Regions from separate parts of the Homo sapiens genome. Here region 1 is linked to region 2. Evidence: fine-mapped expression QTL. Tissue or cell type: whole blood. Region 2 holds a variant in brackets; the other region holds the start of a gene. All regions are shown on one strand. Distances are between the middles of the regions.

Region 1 (8,108 bases), 120 kb after region 2:
AGAAATATTCACTATGTTGACTCATTAAAAATGCTAAGGGTTAAAATGTATGGAACCTCTTAAAATCATAAGCACACATTTTAATAGTCTAATATTAATTAGGAAAGATACTACATGTTTAATATTGTATGTTGATAGAAAAGTTTGCTTTGGGGTCTGGGATTTGACTTCTGTATTTGTACCTCTTGAAATTTCAGATCACATCATAGCATTTTAGTTTGTTCTAAACACTAGCTAGTGCATTACAAAGGTTTTTAACTCATGAAGAGTATTTTATGTCCAAGAATTGCATGAGTCATTAAAATGAAAGTCTTTACAATACTTAATCTACTATAAGCCAGTAAATAAATTTAAGGTGCAGGAGTGAGAAATTAATATATGGCTATAAGATTTTCTCAAAGAAATCTGAAAGACTAGAAATTTCAATATAGTTTTTCTGCTGGTTACAGTCTGCCCTTAATATCTCAATTTCTGCCTAAAAATTGATTTCAGGTTACACATTCTTATTTCACAAATTTGCTAGAAGAATATGATTTAACAATAGATGTTAATATCTTTTGGTAATAAAAGTGTTTGTAAATGTTTGGCCTTCTTGTTATTAGTAATATAGTAATCCCCCATCCCCACAGTTTCGCTTTCCTCAGTTTCAGTTACCTGTGGTCAACAATGGTCTGAAAATATTAAATGGAAAATTCCAGAAAAATGAATTGGTAAATTTTAAATTGCACGCTGTTCTGGGTAGCCCGACTGGTAGGTGAATCATCCCTTTGCCCAGTATATCTGTCTATACTCTCTGCCTGTCACTTAGTAGCCTTCCCAGTTATCAGATCCACTGTCACAGTGCTTGTGTTCAAGGAATCTTATTTTACTTACTAATGGCTCCAAGTGCAAGCATAATGATGCTAGCAATTCGAATATGCCAAGGAGAAGCCATAAAGTGCTTTCCTTAAATGAAAAGGTGAAGTTCTCAACTTAATTAAAAAAAATCATATGCTGAGGTTGCTAAGATCTACAGTAAAAATGAATCTTCCATCCACGAAATTGTTATAATTGTTCTAATTTATTATTGTTGTTAACCTCTTACTGTACCTAACTTAAACCCTGAACCTTATCAAAGGTATGTATATATAGGAAAAAACATTATATATAGATGGTTTGGTTACTATCCTCACTTTCAGGCATTTACTGGGAGTCTTGGAATGTATCCTTCCTGGATAAGAGGGGAAATACTCTACAACATTTTTGCTTTTTTTTGGGAGGGTCTTGCTCTGTCACCCAAGCTGGAGTGCAGTGGTGTGATCACAGCTCACTGCAGTCTCAACCTCCTGGGCTCAAACGATCCTCCTGCCTAAGCCTCTTGAGTAGCTGGGACCATAGGTGTGCACTACCACACCTTTCTAATGTTTTTGATTGTTAGTAGTCTTTGCATTTTTAAGTTATATGTTTGTTATTGAGTGTTACAGAATATTGTGACGTTAACGTACTATAAAGATGGGAGGATATCCAAATTTTGTCACATGCTTGGTGAGAAAAATCAAAGAACATATTGCTTGGTGTTACCCTCGTCTTTCAGAGGGGGTCTATACATTATTACACATTTAATTATACATTTATTATAATTATACATTTCAATATCAAAAGTCAAGTTACATTGGTACATACAAGTAATCTTTACCACATTAATTGTAAATTGACTTATTTATTTACTTAGAGACAGTGTCTTCCTCTGTTGTCCAGGCTGGAGTGCAGCTGATGCTATCATGGCTCACTGCAGCCTCGACTTCCTTGGCTCCAGTGATCCACGCACCTCAGCTTCCCAAGTAGCAGGGACCACAGGCCTGCGCCACCCCACCAAGCCCAGCTAATTTTTGTATTTTTGATAGAGATGGAAGGTCTCACCATATTGCCCAGGTTGGTCTTGAACTCCTGAGTTCAAGCAATCCACCCACCTCGGCTTCCCAAAGTGCTGGGATTATAGGTGCAAGCCACTTTGACTGGTCAAACTTTTGTTTGTTTTTAAGAGACACCCAGCCTGGAGTGCACCAGTGCCATCATAGCGCACTGCAGCCTTGAACTCCTTGGTTCAAGCGATCCTCCTGCCTCAGCCTCCTGAGTAGCTGGGATTACAGGTGCACCACCACCATACCTGGCTAATTTTTAATTTTTTTTTTTTTTTTTTTTAAAGAGATGAGGTCTTGTTATGTTGACCATGCTGGTTTTGAACTCCTGGCCTCAAGTGATCCTCGTAAACTAACTTTGAAACTTATTATAGCAGGCTTGTTGTGATCAGGTGAAGTTATATCAGGCCCAAACTTTGTATGTTTGTCTGACTCCAGTTTTGAATTGCATGAAATGACTTAATCTTTCCATTATTCTGCTTAAAAAACAATTCAAATTTAGGAATGAGACTCCACAATGAAGCCCCACAGCAACGAAAGTGGTCAGCTTGTTTCTAAATGGAAATCCCCAACTGCCACACCACATCAATCATCTGACATATAATCTCACTTCCACTAAGCTGGAATCTACTTTAAACGTCAGGTCTCTGGATGAAGAATTTTAGTTTAGTGGGTTATGTAGCAGAAATGCCTAAATCCAGAGCACTATTTTAGTGTTGGCAGAAATAGCTTCTCTTCAAATAGCAGGGAAGAAAGAACAAGGATTTTAAGTTCAAAGTTTTTGTCTAAGCACATTTTCTAATGTTTCTACCCGTTATCTCATTAAAAAGAATAAAGAAATAGGGGTGGGGATAGAACCACATTCATCTACTTTCATAGAAGGTGCATACTGGAGTCCTGCAGATACAATTTATTTGATCTATATTTTAAAAATTAGGGAAATGCCACATTAGAAAACAGTTCCAGGTTTTTGGTTCTCTTAAGAAACTGGAACCTCTGGGCACAGTGTGTGTGCCTATCTTCTTTTGTGGAAAAGTAGGCTGGAGCTGAGAATTGGCTGCTCTCTTTACACAGGCTCTACAGTTTGCCATTCCCTACCACTCCTGAATGTTTTACACCCATATTTATTTTGTTGCTTCACCCTGCAGTCGGGAGACTCCTGCAGTTTATGAAATTGATACAACAGGGCTTTTTTTTTTTTTTTTTTTTTTGGTAGGGGGTGCAAATCTCTTTGATTTGAGGGGAACGCAGTGGTCGCTTTTGCTTCCAAACAGCCTTAAATCTGCCCGTTTTTCAACGATCTGACCTTACTTTTTCAGGGTGGCCAAAAGCACAAAATTATGAATCAAAGAATGGTCCCCAATTACCACGAGCCAGCTGTGTGACCTTGGGCGACTCCGTTAAGTTCTTTTAGCCAAGAGTGATGAATGGTCTGCAAAACGACCTTAATACCTGTTCTGAATACCCCCACATGGCTGTGGTACAGCAGGCGTGAGATGTTTAAAGTACTCCTAAGTAATTTATAAACTGCAAAACGCTTCCCAGCACAAGCGTCCGCTACAGAGCGCGACGACACCGAGCCGGTTTAGAAGTCCAGTTACTGGAATCCACTCCAGTTCCGTCCTGCTCCCACCTCCTACGCTCAGGGTGGGCGAGCGGAAGGAGACTCTCAAGGGAGAAGGCCTGGAAAACTGGCTAAGAAACGAAGCGAGAAGTTCCTCAGCAGGGGTAAAGTTGTTGGCGGCATTTTTAAGCCCCTAGAGTGGCACAGCGACTCCCGGTCGAGATGACGGACCCCGGTGCGTGACCAGCGCGGGAGCCAGTCCCGGGCCACCTCCCTGCTTGAAGTCGGGCCTGGCCAGTACCCTCCCGGCGCAACCCCGGACCCGGGACCCCCGACTTTGCCCTAGTCCCCAACCCCCACAATCACCTCCCTTGGTCCCCCTCCACGTGACAAGAGCCGGAACCGTCACTTCCGGCGGCGCGGGCAGCGCGCCTGCGCGGGTCGCCCGGCCTCAGTGAGCGGTTGGCAGCAGCGCCCCCCCCCCCCCCCCGCCAACGGCCACGAGTGGCGGGCGGCGCGGGTTCGGCCGGGGCGGCGGCGGCGCGACGGGCTGCGGTCCTGCGGGTTTGTGGCCTGAGACGTCTAGCCCACTCCCTGGAGGGGCCGGCCGCCCAGCCTCTTTCGCTCTCTTCCTCTACCCCGGCTCGCGCTCCAGGCGCTTAGTGAGGCGGCGGGACGCCCGGGGCACTGGCGGAGGCGGCGGCGTCGCCCCTGGATTCGGACCCGCCCCCTCGCGCCCCGCCCCGTCCCCGCCCTCCCCACCGCCCTCTGCGGGAGCCGGGCAGCTGCAGCGGAGCCGCGGAGCGGGCGGCGGGGCCCAGGCTGTGCGCTTGGGGAGCGCGGAATGTGAGGCTTGGCGGGCCGCAGCACGCTCGGACGGGCCAGGGGCGGCGACCCCTCGCGGACGCCCGGCTGCGCGCCGGGCCGGGGACTTGCCCTTGCACGCTCCCTGCGCCCTCCAGCTCGCCGGCGGGACCATGAAGAAGTTCTCTCGGATGCCCAAGTCGGAGGGCGGCAGCGGCGGCGGAGCGGCGGGTGGCGGGGCTGGCGGGGCCGGGGCCGGGGCCGGCTGCGGCTCCGGCGGCTCGTCCGTGGGGGTCCGGGTGTTCGCGGTCGGCCGCCACCAGGTCACCCTGGAAGAGTCGCTGGCCGAAGGTACGGGCGCCCGGGGAGGCTCGGACAGGCAGGTGAGGGAGGGTTGGGGTGTGGCGGCGGCTTCTCCGGGTCCTCGCCCTCCGGACTGACTCTTATACCCCATTCTTCCTCTGCTGCCGGGCCAGCGGGGGCTCCTAAAGAGTGGCTCGGGCTTTCTCTCTTAAGCTGGCTTTTCTTGCCGCTGGCTGCCCCGGCCGGTGCACAGTTCTCTCATGCCTAGTTTAAATCATTTTCTGTGCTTTTTGACGCGAGAAAATAGGTAGTAGACGGGCTAGGAAGTGGGTTGGTGTTACGATTGGGCCAGTGACTCATTAGAGGGTCAGATCGAACAGGGTTGAAGCTCCGTTCTGCCAGCTGTGGCTCAGACGGGTGTCATGCGTTGGCCTTTTCATCTAAGCCTCCACCCGCGCTGCAGGGCATAGGACCCTGCAGCCCCTGGTGTCAAGCTGGGCTTTGCTGCAGCTCAGTCATCTGTTGAAAAACAATGTATTTGTGTGCATGTGTGCGTGTTGGAGGTGATCCTTTGCTCTAAATTCAGTTAGTAGGTTGCACTGAGGAGCAGGTAAACTTGGAGCCCATTTATCTTTGTTATTTAGAATCTTCTCTGTTGGACAAGGTGCTATTCATGCCCTCCCAGTATGTCTCTTTGATAGTAGTTTAAAAGGTGATATAAAAGCAGGTTAACTTTCACTTAACGAGGTTTTGTGGTCGGTCCTTCATGATCTGGAACAGGTTATGACGGCAGGTAGAAGTCTACTTACAAAAAAAGTTTACTCCATTTTAAAAGAAGAACTTAGAATTTAGTTTTGTATTTCTGGCATAATTGCCTTGTAGAAAATACTTGCCCTGTGTGCTGCATGCTTCATTGGCCTTTGAGTTTTTAGTTGCAAAATGATACTACAAAATAAACACTTTAAAAGAAATACTTTTTGTTGATAAATGGCCCTTTTAAGTTCTATGGTTAAGATAAAAAAAATCGAAGAGTGGATTCAGTTCTCCGAGCGTTAGACGTTGATGTGGTTTGAAAACAGTAGACTGAGATTCCGCTTGTATTTTTTGAAATGCTATACACAACAGTAAATTAGCACAAGGGAAAAAACCTGAAGATTTTTGTATAAAATATTTGAAAGAGAAAGAAATCGTGAATTATTCAAGTGTACATATCATTGTTTCGTGAACCATTGCTCAGAATAATGATCTTAGCCGAAACTTGGAGAGGTGGGAGAAGGAGGATCCTTAGTTTTTCAGAAGAATGAATATGTGGTGAGTGGTCTTTATAAAAGATTTACTATACTATAAAGTTTTCTAGCTCTTTATTACACATGAATTTCAATTATTGGTTTAGATTGTGTTGTAGGTTTTAAAAGCACATGGCTCTTCACTCAAATGCCATATTCTGTCTTTGAATTGTTTTAGTAACTAATTGAAATGTAGCTTGAGTAGTGTTACACTCACTCATTCCACTAAATCCCAGATGGGTCTTTTATTTAATAGAAAAAAAATACTGACATTTCACAAATTAGATTTTGAATTTGTAACTTGTATTACTCACTACCCTAAGCATATCTTATCACTACCCTAAGCAAGCCATTTTCAATAAAAAAATAATTTTGGAAAGTAATAAAGATGAATTTCAAAAGGAGAGTTCGTTCAACCACAACGAAGAATAAAAGTTTATTTCAAGCGCTAATGTCACTGTTAGAGTGTTCCACTGACTTTTGCCATAAATGTATCATTTCTCTTGAAAAGTCAATAATCAAATGCTAGGAGGAAGCAAGGACTGAAGAAATCCTTTTAGAAGATGAAACTTCTCCATCCTACACCCCAGCTTTAATTTCCTAGAAGGGAGGCCAAGGCCTAGGTTTTCTTTCCTTGTGTATTTTTTCTGTCTCCATCACCCACACAACTGGAATTGTCTATGTATAATCAGTTTAATTTTGATCCTGGCCGGTCTTATTTCAGATGCTTAATATCCCCTCTCCCTTCCTAATAAATAGTGCCACAATTTAGACAAGATGTTTAAGCACAAGTCTAGTTCGCATTTAAGCGTGATTAATCAATAATTGATGGGTCTGCCTGATCATAAGATTGGGTCATGTACTTGTGAAAATGCATTCAAGTTTAGAGTACTTGATTTGGGGAGAGGGATACCACTGAGTAGGCAAAGCGGTAGAAGCTAAGATAGACCAAAGCACAGACTTGGTAGATTTTGCATTTTTTGTTTTGGCCCAAAGTTGTTTAAACAGAGCCAGGAAGACTCAGTAGATACTGTGCCCTGAAGTGTTTTTGCCATGCTCCTGCAAACATTGGTAGTTTACTCATAATGACCTCTGCAGTGTCTTTTTAATAAATCCGTCCGTCTCTCTGTTGTTATTTTTATATAATTAGTTATGTTGCAAAAAGTCACCGTGAAAACTGGATTAGCAAACACTGAACCACTGCTCCTACTATGGTGTTAGATTCCTGAAAGCTGCTGTTCACAACATTTTTGTCAACTGATCAAGATACAACCTTGTTTTATGTCTGTTGCAGTTTAAATACACCTTATTTAATATATTTGGTTGATTTATTAACATTGAAATCATGGCCAACAGCTCTGTAAATCATGCCTCAATGAAGATTATCTCACACTTGTATTTTCTCTGTAGTCTTTGCTCCTTGAACACTAGACAGCACTTTAGCACTACGCTTAGGGACTGTTTTCAACAGTGAAATCACCAATAGCAAGCACAAAAATGAGAAAAACATGGCACTAAATAGACCATGAAAAGGACACTTGTTTACACTATGTAAGCTGAAACTAGAATGTGCACGTCAGTAGACTCACATTTTTCACCATTGTGCACATGTCTGCAATGACAGTGGAAGTGCTATGAGTAATGATTTTGGGGATACAAATAAATGTTAGTGAGTAGATGAATTTGTAAATATAGTATCCTCAACTAATGAGGAGCAACCTTTGTTATAGGTAGATATGTATATGCACATATTATGTCTATAATTTGAAAAGCAGATTCTCAGGGGTAGGTTGTATGTTATAACTAAACTGTTAAAGTTTTCTCTCTGAAACATTATATACTTTGTATCATAATGTCTTTGTAGTCAAGCACATAAGTGTTTGAAAATAGAACTTGCACCTTTTTAGTTCCTCCTCAAAGTTTAAAGGACTGATAACATAGTGAGGCAGTTCATGTTTTTTTTCTCAAAAACATGTTTAGGAGTCTGTACTAAGCAGATCCCAGCTTTGGTCTGTAGAAATGAGGGAGAGCGGTATGTTGGTTTTAGCTTCAAACAGTGACAAATTGTCAGGCTCATATAATTAATTCAATGTAACCTTCCAAGTTTTTACTAAAACCTGGGGTTGGCTTGTTGACCACATGCATCACCATAACAAGCCTTTGGTGCTAGTCTGAGGAATTTAATACTGATTGATAATAAGTTGGTTTTTGAGTAGGGGACATTGTTTTCCCTAAATGTCCTTGGTACAAAAT
Region 2 (8,108 bases):
CCAGTGCCACTTACCTATTCTTTTCTTTTTTTCAGTGAAAGCAAGACTTACAACGATAAAAATAGAAGTTAGTTTCAATAATTATTTTTATAATTTTTTCAGTGAAAATCCACAGACAAGAACCAAACTCATGGTTCTCAAATTATACTCTTATACTGATTATCAGTAGTTTTAGGTGTTTGGGTTCTGAAATTCAATGCTAGGACTGGGAGTAGAGGATTTTATTGCTAATATATCAGGATTAGGTTTTGCTGCACATTTAAAAAAAAAAAAAAAGCAAACTACCAAAGCCTAAAGCAAGCTGGAATTTGGGGGTTTCTTTTCTCAGATAAAAGGAGTTGGAAGAGAAACTATCTAGCTATGGCCACTCCATAATATCATCTGGGACCCCCAGGCTCTTTTCTCTATTATCTTAACACATGGCTTTTATTATTAAGGTCATCTCTGGGCTGCTGAAGCTCCAGTTATCACACCTGCATTGCAAGCCAAAATAAGAAGGAGATGCAGAAAGTATCACCCCCAGCTGAGTAAAATTGTGTTAAGTAGCCCTTCTAAACGTTTTATCTAGGAATTATGCTTTCATATCTTTGACAGAGATTAGTCACGTGGCCACAGTTAGCCACAGGGGTGACTAGGAAATGTAGTTTTTGTCTTGAGAGCTATTCTGCTGGGATAAGAATCAAGGTTAGGCAACTAGCTATCTTTTCCACACAAAATATTACAGAAAAAAGATGTTAATGGATAGAATGTTCTCAATTACACATTTTTCTCCATACCTTTTACATATTCCTTTGGTTTTAAGAATATTATCATTCTCCTATAATAGTATACAATAGTATATGATTCAAAACAAAATTATAAACTGGATTTTTTTAACAATCTATTTATATTTCATTTTATCCTACAAAGAGCAACATGATTTTCAGTTGTTTTATCACATGAATATATTCAAGCCCCATTAATCCAAATCAAATAAAATTATGGAAGTCTAGAAATCCATTCTGTATGGAAGCAAGCTAACAGCAGCGTTCCATCTTCTAACAGCCTTAGCCCAGGAGCATTTACCAGTAAGCATATTGATTTGAGCGTCAGCATAAAATAAGGCATCCCTGAATTTTTACCAACAAAGAAAAGTGTCCTTGCACTGTGGTCACAGCATGTGTATCTTTCTACATCTGCCCTCAAATTCCCAACAACATGATTGTGCTCTGAGTGGAAGCCTCTTGGTGTTCTGTGTTGCCTTCATCCATATAAGTATATGTAGGTCTTTCTGTTCATTTAGAGTTTGCCTTTTGTGTGTGTGACAGGGTCTTACTCTGTCATCTAGGCTAGATAGAGTGCACCAGTGTGATTGTAGCTCACTGCAGACTTGACTTCGTGGGCTAAAGAGATCTTCCTGCCTCAGCCTCAGCCCCTGACCCCTGACCCCCAGGAATTACTGGTGCATACCACTATGCCCAGCTAATTTTTTATTCTTTATTTTTTAGAGATGGGGTCTGATTATGTTTCCCAGGCTGGTCTCAAACTCCTGGGCTCAAGTGATCCTTCCACCCCACTGTCCCAAGTGTTAGAGCACATCATGGGTGTCAGCTACTGCACCCAGAGAGAATCTGCCTTAAGACTTTAAAGAATTCTGAGCAATAGTGTCTGAGGGGCTCATTCCCTAACCTAACGAGGATTACAAACCAGCTGGGTTATGAAAGAGCAGCAGCCATCCAAAACTGTCCTGATTGGGGAAGTGAACTCTGCATGCCACAAAGCAGGAATGGCAGCCAAATGAGAAACATATGCTCTGGATTCTGATGCAAAGTTTTTATTTCTTTAAAAACAACTGCATTAAAGTGACATAAACTTAAATTTAATCCAATTTGGACCTTACTGGAAAACAGTATGAATTTTGGGTGAAATATTTTGGAGAAATTTGAAATATCTACTATGTTATGTGACCTTAGACAAAGAACTTAACCACACCAAGTTATTGTTATTATATGAATAATAACAGTAATGTCAAATAGCAATAATAATGCCAAAAGAACTGACAGTCTTTTTGAAGATTACTGTGTCAAGAGTGTAAGTTACGTTAGAAAGATACACATGCTGGCCGAGCGCGGTGGCTCACGCCTGTTATCTCGGCACTCTGGAAGGCTGAGGTGGATGGATCACCTGGGGCCAGGAGTTCAAGACCAGCCTGGGCAACATAGTGAAACCCTGTCTCTACTAAAAATACAAAAATTAGCTGGGCATATTGGTGGGCGCCTGTAATCCCAGCTACTTGGGAGGCTGAGTCACGAGAATTGCTGGAACCCAGGAGGCGGAGGTTGCAGTGAGCCAAGATCATGCCACTGCACTCCAGCCTGGGTGACAGAGAAAGATTCCAAAAAAAAAAAAAGAAAGAAAGAAAAGAAAAGAAAGACGGGAAGGAAGGAAGGAACGGAGGGAGGGAGGGAGGGAGGGAAAGATACACGTCCTGTGGCCACAGTACAAGGACATTTTTCTTGGTTGGGAAAAATTCAGGGGTGCCTTATTTTATGCTGATGTTCAAATCAATATTCTAAGTTATAATAAGGCTGTTACATTAGACTCTTAACACAGTAATCTTCAAAAAGTAATGCTATATTATTAAATAAGTGTACATAAAATAACTTACTGGTCATTCTCTTCTTAGTCCAAGGATTTTGTCACTAACCTGCTAAAATTCTTTTAGCAAGACTTTTAATTAGAGGTCAAAAATTTACTCACTCTAATGAGGGACTTGAATTTTACAATCTGTAATAACTGACTTGACGTTGGGCCTTATTATCTCGGATTCTTTCATCTTCCTTGGGTTGTTCCTTAATTCTGGGCATTTTGCTGCCCATTACCTCTCTCTTCAAAGGTTGGCAAAGGGACATAGCAACAATTCTGGTAAACAGAGCAAATGGAAATGGAAATGAGCCAGAGGTGTGCTCAGTAGAATGTCATGTCATGTATTGATCAAATGGCACAGAGAACCCAGGCTCTGGAGTCAAGACTGGGAAGCTATTGTCATAAACTATTCTACATTGGCCCGTAACTTGAGCCTTAACAAATCATACAACCTCAGAGACTTCATCTATAAATTGAAAGTGTTAATATCATATACCTTTTAAGATTTTTTGGCCAGATGCAGTGGTTCATGCCTGTAATTCCAGCACTTCGGGAGGATCACTTGAGCTCAGGAGTTAGAGACCAGTCTGGGCAACATAGTGGGACCCTGTTTCTACTAAAAATAAAAAAAAAAAACTAGGCAAGTGTGGTGGGGCATGCATGTAGTCCGAGCTACTCAGGAGGCTGAAGCAGGAGGATCTCTTGAGCCTGGAAAATCAAGGCTGCAGTGAGCCATGATCAGGTTACTGCACTCCAGCCTGGGTGACAAAGGGAGACCCTGTCTCAAAAAAACAAGCAAAAAAATATTTGTCAGGATTAAATGATGTTACCTATAAAGTATTGTGGGCATTGTGTTAATTGTTACCTATTACTATTAACCAACACCATTATGAGATATCTCTATATGTTAGCAACAGAAATAAATTTATCCATTTATTTCAAACAGTATTTGATTCAATGCAATTCTAGTACAATAGAATACTCCTAGAATGATAATAATATGACTAAGTTTGTTTTTAGGTCATTTCAATAAGAAAATTTAGACTTCGTTATCTATTTGTCAATGCTTATTTAATCCATAGTTCATTCTGAGTCCCTCGCCACTTTTACATTGTCCTTTTCGAGTGTCTTTCACAGCCCTGTGGCTTTAATGCGTTGCTGTCTTCCCAATTCACAGTTCAGTTTCATCAGCACTCCTGTT[T/C]CCTGTTTTGTCACTGTCTAGGCTGCCTGTTTTGCACCTCGAACTCCTTCCTCTTCCTCTTCAAAGGATATCGTCAACATTTCCAGTAGGGATGGGCAATGAATGCCACAAACGTTTCTTGCTGCAGCTCTTCCTTTTCTTTCTTTTTCTTTTTTTAACCTCCTTTGAACCTTCATAAGCTTCCTGTAATGACTGTGTCTCTGTTTCAACTATTTCAGTATTTCTGTGGCTTTTGATTTTGATCTGGATTCACGTCTTCCAGCCAAAACCATCTCAAACAAGTAGTTTGAGGTTTTTGCTGGAAGGTAATTTGAATTTGTTTACATGGCCACCAACTCCCAATTTTAGATGTCCTGAGATTTCTGGAGTAGAGGATTGGCCTTACCAGATTACCTTTCTCTTATTAGCACTATTATTAGCAAAGATGGGCTCTTTCGTTTGTGAGCTAATCATACTTCTTATAATTCTAAATAACTACTTCTAAATCAGGAGAATTAGAAAAGTCTTTCATTTCAGCAGGGTTGAAAAAAGGTTAATTAAAGTCATCCACAGACATAGATATAGCAACATGATTTGATATACATACATCAATAAGAATAGTCATGCACACACATACACAGAAACACACAATTATTCCTTTACAATCTTCTGGCATCTTTTCTGCAAGGAAGCCACAAACACAAACTGGATATGAACAAAATAACTCAGCAGATGACCAATGACCTCTTCCTCCTTCTCATCCTCCTCCTTCTCCTCCTCCTTTTTCTTGTTTTGCCATCATTGTTTAGGTGAAGCGCAAAACAAGTCCCAAATATTTCTGGGCTACTCTCAAATTATTGGGCTCTGTGGCGTGTGCATTTGAATGTTCATTCAATAAATATTCACTGAGAACCTACTATGTCCCAGGTCCTCACAATACAGCTGTGTACAAAACAGACCAGATCCCTGCCATCTGGAACCTCGTACTTGGGTGGGTGATCAGTTTCCAGAATCAGACAGTCTGCTCATTTGAGAAAACTCCTGTGTGGTTCAAGATTCCAGAGGAGAACACTGAGACAGGAGCAGACTGGGTTTATCATATGCCCCATCTCGTGGTTTCCTAACAGGCCAAATGCAATACAGAGAGGGGTATTGCTCACTCTTCCTTCCTGTTTCTGTCACTCAGACAGGAGCTAGATAGTTCCTTTCCTACCAAGCTAAGACTTTTGCTCTCATCAAGTGAGAAGGTCCCTCTTACTTTACAATATTTCTGACCTGAACCCTGGCAACCATAAATCTACTTTTTTTTTTTTTTTTTTTTTTGAGATGAAATCTTGCTCTTGTACCCCAGGCTAGAGTGCAATGGCACCATCTCGGCTCACTGCAACCTCCGCCTCCTGGGTTCAAGTGATTATCCTGCCTCAGCCTCCCGAGTAGCTGGGATTACAGGTGCCTGCCACCATGCCCAGCTAATTCCTGTATTTTTAGTAGAGACGTGGTTTCACCATGTTGGCCAGGCTGGTCTCGAACTCCTGACCTCAGGTGATCTGCCCGCCTTGGCCTCCCAGAGTGCTGGGATTACAGGCGTGAGCCACTGCACCTGGCCCACAAATCTACTTCTATCTCTCACCTTGCCTTGACTTTCACCACAAGACAGAATAGTTCCCCTTAGAGACTTTCATTTGCTCTGTGGTATCACTCTTTAGACTGCCTGAGATACATACTGGAAAATGCCACCTCTTAAAAGGCACCACTAAGTTCTTAATTGAATCCACACTTTAGTCTTTTATCCTTTCGATTTCTATGGTAAAGAACATAGGCCCTGTATTTGCTACTCATATCTCCCATTCATTTGTGTGTGATTATGTAGCTTTTTTAGCTTACACACAGCTATAAAGCATTTTCCAAGTCTTTTTTATATTATCTAGTTTGCATGAAATAAGGATGTAGGAGTATGTTTGGCTTTTGGCTATAGATAGTTGGAAGTATTTCTAAAGATCCACTCTCTTCTGAGCTCTCTTACTGTTCTTGTTTTCAACTAACAGAAATTGGAAAATAAAGATTGTGTGGGTATAAAATGAATGCTTGCAATGTTTGTCATTTTTGGAACTCTATTTCTGTGGCTCTTGACTTTTTTTAAGATGGCTTCACCTAAAAGTTGCTAAGGCCAGGCCAGAGCTCTTCTTATAAACAAATGACAGGGGACATGATAGCCCATAATGAATTCAATCTGGGCTATCTGTGGCGTTGTGTGTGGATAAAAAGTAAAAGCTAATTTTGAGTACAAAGAAAATGAATAAAGCCTCTTGCCACTAAGATAGTTAAGAGAAGACTGTCAGAAGGCAACATCATTCTATGCAGCTGGACCTATGCCCTTCCACAGATGGGAACAATGCCATATGGTTAGGGAGCTTGGCTGTTACCCAAGTGGCTCCTATTCAGTTCTCCATTTGAGCAAGAGTTGAGAGGAGATGGAGAATAGTATTTGGGAGACTTCCTGGGTTCAAGTCCTGCCTCTACCACTTATTTGCTATGTGCTTTCTTAGTAACCTGAAGCAATGAATAACAGTATTAGCCTCATAGGGTTGTTGTAAGGTTTAATTGAGATAGTGCACATTATGCATGCTGCCTACCTGGCACATAGTAATAGGTGGGAGGTATTATTACTGTGATGATGATGATGGGTGTCCAGGGGGAGACCAGTCTGAATGTACCTGGTAGACTCAGTAGGTTACTGGAAGTCAGGAGTCACAAATGTGAACCAGGCAGCAAGCTTTAGAAGGTGATTGACAGGGCAAATTGGCAGGGATTGTTAAGAAAGATACAGAGAATGGTGGTAAAACCAGGAGGAATAAGCATGCCTTTTTCTCTTATTGGAGCAAAGAGGACATTACCTGGTCTGTATCCAACTAGACAAGGGCCTGAACCTTAGAGAAGATGTTGAACCCCACTAGCATTACTTAAGGTCAAACAAGGCAAAAGCGTTTTGGTTTTCTGTTTATTTGTCTGGTTTGGGATATTCCTGGGAAGGAATATTATGGATTTTGCACTTCTAATATCTGACTTCTGTGTAATGGAAGAAAAAAATAGCACTCCAGTAAGCCTTTATAATGCCATACACACATAAAGTGAAACAAGAAGACCCTGTGAAGGATGATAGGAATGACAGATCTCGTCCTACTAAAGGAATAAATTTCCTTCCAAACATATTACAGTTGTATAAGCTATAAAATATATTGCTATAAAATGACTCACCTATTTGAAAATCCTACTGCATAGAGTTTCCACAGTTAGAAAACTGGTATGCGAAAATGTGAAAGTTGGTAAGAATCAAGAAATAGTTTTTTAGTACCTATTGTGTGTAAGGTATTATTACATAATCACAGAATTATACTATTATTTTGCTTTTTGCATAGATTTGCATTACCTAGTCAATATTTAACTGATTTATTTAACCTTTGTAAAACAAATTCAGAATCTCATACTGAGACTTAGGAAGTATATACAGTAGTTCCCCCCTTATCCGTGGTTTTGCTTTCCATAATTTCAGCTACCTGCAGTCAACCACGATCTGAAGATGTTTAAGGGAAAATTTTGGAAATTAACAACTCATAAGTTTTAAATTGTGCACCATTCTGAGTAGTGTGATGAAATCTCACAGCATTCCGCTCAGTCCCTTCCAAAGGTGAATCATCTTTTGGTCCAGTTATCTGCACTGTAGATGCAACCATCTAGATTATCAGATTGAAAAAACATAGTATAGACAGTCTAGGGTTCAGTACTATGCACAGTTTCAGGCATCTACTAAGTCTTGGAACGTATCCTTCAAGGATAAGGGGGAACTATTCTATTCATAAATTCATAGAATTTTAAAGCTGGAAGAACTCCGAAGGGAATGAAAATCAGTGTCCTAGGCTTTCCTTAAAATGCTAGGTAATGTCCTAAGGAGCTTTTGAAATTTTAAATTATTTTTAAAACACTTTATAAAAGAAATTTTTTAGTCAAATATATCAGTGCTCACTAAATCCCCACCTATTATAAGAATTTACTCATCCTAGCAATGTCAACTTTAGGAAGCATAAGAATAGAAACTGAGATAATATAAATGACTTATTCAAGGGGAATGGCATTAATCAGTCAACAAAGTGAGATAATCAGTAGAGCATCTGAAAAAATAAGACCTCTCATATGACCTGTTTGTTTATTTCTGTTCCCAGATGACAAATATTTTTTGAATTCTGCCCAGCTCCTCTTGGGGTAGACAAATATTAAAACAGAAAAAAGTGGCAAGGTGCTTTTGTTC

Evidence for each region. PIP is the estimated chance that this variant, and not a neighbour inherited with it, causes the effect.
Region 1: it holds the start of BMP2K, and the variant in region 2 is fine-mapped to the expression of BMP2K in whole blood (TOPMed, PIP above 0.99). The same link has a PIP of 0.9 or more in blood mononuclear cells.

Annotation. Positions count from the first base shown.
Region 1 is chr4:78,772,105-78,780,212 of GRCh38, forward strand. BMP2K (BMP2 inducible kinase) reads left to right here and starts at 4,246. Exons shown (of 16, transcript NM_198892.2): 1 at 4,246-4,617. The coding sequence starts at 4,440. It overlaps BMP2K-DT (BMP2K divergent transcript), which reads right to left and starts at 3,866. Exons shown (of 1, transcript NR_186689.1): 1 at 1,551-3,866. RefSeq lists enhancers at 3,482-4,112, 4,745-5,375 and silencers at 3,579-3,828, 3,919-4,588, 4,950-5,150.
Region 2 is chr4:78,653,271-78,661,378 of GRCh38, forward strand. The region is part of intron 1 of LINC01094 (long intergenic non-protein coding RNA 1094); the gene reads left to right. Among named protein-coding and RNA genes, the nearest start is that of LINC01094, 11 kb to the left of the region's middle. The variant T/C (reference allele first, on the strand shown) is at 3,827.